Regions from separate parts of the Homo sapiens genome. Here region 2 is linked to region 1. Evidence: fine-mapped expression QTL. Tissue or cell type: putamen. Region 1 holds a variant in brackets; the other region holds the start of a gene. All regions are shown on one strand. Distances are between the middles of the regions.

Evidence for each region. PIP is the estimated chance that this variant, and not a neighbour inherited with it, causes the effect.
Region 2: CD55 starts here. The variant in region 1 is fine-mapped to the expression of CD55 in putamen (GTEx, PIP above 0.99). The same link has a PIP of 0.9 or more in caudate, cerebral cortex and prefrontal cortex.

What each region holds. Positions count from the first base shown.
Region 1 is chr1:207,397,733-207,400,499 of GRCh38, reverse strand. No RefSeq gene overlaps it. Among named protein-coding and RNA genes, the nearest start is that of CR2, 55 kb to the left of the region's middle. The variant C/T (reference allele first, on the strand shown) is at 1,403.
Region 2 is chr1:207,320,109-207,322,717 of GRCh38, reverse strand. CD55 (CD55 molecule (Cromer blood group)) reads right to left here and starts at 1,040. Exons shown (of 10, transcript NM_000574.5): 1 at 853-1,040; 2 at 151-336. The coding sequence starts at 952. It overlaps LOC107985251 (a long non-coding RNA gene), which reads left to right and starts at 589. Exons shown (of 3, transcript XR_007066838.1): 1 at 589-1,032. RefSeq lists a silencer at 765-844 and an enhancer at 1,405-1,614.

The DNA.
Region 1 (2,767 bases):
GTATTAGCATAGTATAAAAAGACCACTAATTGCATATATCAATCTGGGAGGACCTTCAAAGATTTGGACAAAATCAAGATAACATTCCTAATGTTCTAAATGTGCTATCTATGAAACAAAACAAAACCAATGAAATAACAACAACAAAACTCTAGGTTAAGAGAAAGCAGAAGTACATGTCTTGCAATCACTGTGTTTGCAAAGATAACCATTATTTATTTAAGATAAAGAAATGAATATTCAGAGGATCAATTTTTCTCTACTTGAAAAATGTTGTCTTCTAAATAAAAATGCTGATTTATTCAATTGTGTGATAACATCATTGGTTACAGATAAAATTGCACTCTGACAAAAGGGAAAATAAAATACACACACATAGGTGTATAGGAAAATCTAAATTATTAATGAATATTTTTCTTTCTTATTATAAATGCTTTCTATTCTTTAGTAAGTTTTTGGATGAGGAAAGGGAAACCAACCATGACATAAAGGCTTCAGTATCACTGATGAATTACGAGGCAGAGAAAAATAATATATAAATTAACAACAACCGAGTAATAGTATAGAAAAGGAAAAGGAGAAAAACTAACACCTGAGGCATTAGATCTAAACTGTTTTCTGTCATCAAAAAATAATATTTAAACATAATATACACATAAAAGACAGTTCAAAGGTGCTTTACTTTTATTTGTGTATATTTAATTTAATAAACACATAGCTTACTACATGCCAGGAACTGTTCTAAGCATCCTACAGCTATTGACAGACAGCCTGGCTTGCAGACGGCCACCTTCTGGTTGTGTGCTCACATGGAGCGGGGAGAGAGAGAGAGAAAGCTCTTAGGTCTGTTTTTATAAGGACATTAATCCCATTAGGAGGACCTCACCCTCATGAACTCAGCTAAGCCTCATCACCTCACAAAGTCCCCACCTCCAAATACTATCACACTGAGGATTCAGGATTCAGCATATGAATTTTGGGGGGGCAGGATTCAGTCTATCCCAGCCATCTTACAAGTGATACTTTGACATATGATGAAATGACCCTACTCCATTTGGCAGCTCCTCCTGAATCCACCAAGTCCAATTATTTGGGGTATGGTTTTTATGAAATGGTATTTCTTTTTATTATGCTGTATTAAAGCAACTGAGATTCTTTTATTTTTTCCGTTAGATTTACTAGAGATTATTACATGTTTCCAGTTCAGGGCTCTAGGCTACCAACTGTTCATTCCCAACTCTGGGGCTTGCAAATATGTGTGGGCCTTTGTGACAGCCCTTGCCTGGTGTTCCAACTGTGATGCTACATCTGGCACCTGTGGACTATGACACATGAGGATGGGGAGGGTGGTAACAGATGTCCTTTATACTGTGTGCTCCTACTATGGCACCCAGGCCAGTCA[C/T]CTCCTCTTTCAGCCTCCCAGCCCCCACCCCCAACCCCACCCCCACCACTGGCTCCAGCCCATGTATCAGGCTGTTCTCTCCCCAGAGATTTCTAAAACACCAATGGGCCCCTCCTTTCAATGCCCTGCCTCCAATGCATATAGAAATGGGGCATTCTCCTGGGCTCATCTTAAGCCATGCTAGCAGATGGGTGGACATTTCTCGTGGGGATGGAGCTGCTCTATCACTCCTCATAAGATCTGACCTCCCACTGGGTACAAGGGGTAGAAAGCAGGGATGCAGGCCCCATGGAAAGAAATCCCATTTTAGCCATGTGTTGATTATGGCCTAAAGAGTTCAGATGAAGACATACTATAGATTCCAAATGGTAAATTTAACAAGACTAGAAGAGGAAATATTATTTAGATTTTTCCCGCTTGGATAATATTTGTAATTGTGGTTATCAATGAAGCACAGAAGCAACCTTTGAGTGTCATTGGAAGGAAGCCATTGTTCATGGGTGGTACAATAGATGATCAACACTGTGGGAAATGATATAATTAATAATGAATACATGGTATTAGGAAAACAGAAGGGCAAGAAAATCTCTATCCTTTCAACTTGTATAAACAGGTTCTAAAGGGCCATGCATTGTAATAGCAGTGTTGTCATTTTTGTCTGGTCGGAGAAGATATAAAATTAACCAAGAACAGCACATTGTGCACATTTGACAATAAAAAACACAGAGGATCTAGACTCCAAAAAGGAAGAGATGGTGCCTGGACACGATGAAGAATCTTCATGTAGAATGATTAGGCAATGAACAAATTAGTGTCTTTTGATACTCATTAAAAAATTTTTATTCATAAATGACTATACCTCACATGGGACCATGAGTTGTGTAATGCATTTTTAAATCAAATTGTTTTCATAGACAAAGAATATACACACACACACACACACACACACACACACACACATACCCAGTTTGCTGGGGCCTTGCATGCCCTAAGGATGGCCCTGTCTACAGAAAAGTCAGTGCTGCATCTCTACCCCACTAATGTTTGCTGGAGTAGAGAAGGGGAACCACAGCATCAAGCCTCTGTGGAGAGTCCTTTCATTGATCAGCCTGATTTCTGCTCCATTTCCCAGTCCCCTAATCCCTGCCTGCCATCTCTAGTATGGGAATCTCTGTAGTTTCCTCCAGGAAGAGTGGCTCCTCACCACTGTCTCTGTGCATGTTTGAGCTACAGCTCCCCCTAGTCTGCATCACTCCTAGTAGGCTTCCACAGGCATCCTCTCTTCCAAAACATCAACAAAAGCTGGCAGCTGCTGGCACCTCATTCAGGGTATACAGTAGGCTACGGTGTTTGTGTCAATTACCA
Region 2 (2,609 bases), 78 kb after region 1:
ATTAGCTGGAGTGTGACGTGCCAACAGGGTATACCCTGGGGTTTAGTAACGCTAGAGAACTATCAATTACTAGTCACTCCAAAGGTATATAAAAATAAATTTAAGATACATTCCATTCCCAGAACTTTTCTAAAAAGATGAAGAACTTACGATTGCAGAACTCTTCAATATCTGACCATTGACTGCCCTTAAGGCAGATCACTGAGTCCTTCTCGCCAGGAATTTTCACAAAGCTTTCTTCACATTTGTACGTTATTACAGTATCCTCGGGAAAACTTGTACGGCCTTCCAAAGCTGGCTGGGCATTAGGTACATCTGGGGGAAGGCCACAGTCACCTAGGGAGACAAAAGCAGAACTGAAGGAAATGACTATCAAGTGTCCTCACAGTTGCTGTTTTCAAGACACAAGCCCCCTTGAAATGCCACACCTGAAAGAGATGACATGCAAGTTTGCAGCATCGTGTGCTCCACACGGCTGGACTCTGTCGAGAGTGGGGAACGGTCAGCGGTCTGGCCTCCCATCCTTTTAGACCAGCTTTTTGGGGGTTAAGGATACAGTCTCTTTGAGCCCTCCCTTTCGATTTTGCCAGGCTTGGCTGCTCCGCAAACCCAGCCGGGGCCTCTTTAACCCTCCACGCCGACCCCTAAAGCCAAGTCAGCTGGGGGCCGACACAGCAGGAGCCCCAAATGCTGGTGAGCGGCGAGAGCCTTAAAGGCACAGGACGGCGGGAACCACGACCGCGGGCCAAGCTCCCCACCTGCCAAGTCGCCGGCCCCTGTGCGTGTCTCAGAGACCGACTTGGACCTCCCACCCAGCCCAGGGGCTTCCCCGGCCGCCGGGCCCCTACTCACCCCACACGGCCGGCAGGCACAACAGCACCAGCAGCAGCAGCCGGGGCAGCTCCCCGAGGAGGGGCAGCGCCGCGGGCACGCTCGGCCGCGCGACGGTCATGGCGCGCCGGGTTAGAACAAGGACGCGCCGCCGGGACTCCGCCGAGTCGCAGCTACGCCCAGCGGCCGGAGCGAGTTGCAGTAAGCAGAAGCCTCGTGGCTCCGCAATACCAGTTAAATGAGTGCTTTGGGCGGGGTCTGGGCTGGGGCTCTGCGTCACCAAGGGTGGGACAAACAAGACGGGTGGAGTAGGGGTTTGTTGTGGTCAGAGGTGCGGTCAGAGGGCTCCGGCGTCATACGCCCCGGGGGCCCTAGACTCGGGGAGAGTGGGGAGGGGAAGGAGGAGGAGCTCGCTGGCAACACCCTCTGGGACTCACTCTCTCCACTGCTGGGTGGGGCCTGCGATGACCTGCCTTCTAGAAACCTAAATATCTCCTCGCTACGTAAACACAAACGGGGTGTAAACGGGAGAGGGGGAGGGGTGCTCAAGTATCGCAGGCCTTGCTGCCCGCACGTGAGTTCGTCTAAGCGGAGCATCCCCGCGCTTGAGTGCTGCCAAGGGGACCTGCAGGTGCGGTGGAGTTCGGGGGCTGAGACTCAGGCGCTGAGACGCGGTGCTCTACCCGCGTCTTGGGCCCTCTACTGGGAGGTCTGTCAAAGGCCAGCACGAGGGTGGGGAAATAACTAAGGAGGAAGGGCGTCATCTCCTAGAACACTCTCTAATGTGAAAACAGAGACCTGGGGAAACAGGTTGAATAACACAGTAGGGAGTGAACATTGTTCATGCCTTGTTCGGGTGGGAGTCATTTTCTTCACCCGGGTTCTCCTTATTTACGAAAGACACCACTTTGGGATTACTCCAGACTGACTGTAGAGAGAAATTCACCAGTGTGCGTGTGTGTATGTGTGTGTGTGTGTGTGTGTGTGTGTGTGCGCGCGCGCGCGCGCGCCTCGGGGCGGTGTGGGGTGGGATAACAATAAAAACAAACAGACCCCAAAACGCTGAATGGTGGTGGGGTGGATTTTAAGAGGAAGGCTTGTTACAAACCCTTTAGAATAAATAGCCTGAGGTTTGCAAGACTGGCCACACATTAGAATCACGTGGGGAGCTTATATATATATTTATATTTATATATTCATATATATTTATACATATATAAATATATATTCTTTAAGTTCTGGAATACATGTGCAGAACATGCAGGTTTGTTACATAGGTATACACGTGCCATGGTGGTTTGCTGCACCCATCAACCCAACATCTACATTAGGTATTTCTCCTAATGCTATCCCTCCCCTAACCCCCACCCTCCAACAGGCCCCCGTGTGTGATGTTCCCCTCCCTGTGTCTGTGTATTCTCATTGTTCAACTCCCACTTATGAGTAAGAACATGCAGTGTTTGGTTTTCTGGTCTTATGTTAGTTTGCTGAGGTTGATGGTTTCCAGCTTCATCCATGTCCCTGCATAGGACATGAACTCATCCTTTTTTATGGCTGTGTAGTATTCTATGGTGTATATGTGCCACATTTTCTTTATCCAGTCTATCATTGATGGGTATATGGGTTGGTTCCAATCCAGAGGCCCAAACTGCACCTTAGACAAATTAAATCAGCATCTTTGGGGATGGGACTGGGTATCAGGATTACTTAAAGTGCCACACTGTGCAGCCAGGTTTGAGAACCACAGACCTATATGGTACTGGTCAGAGTAAAGATCT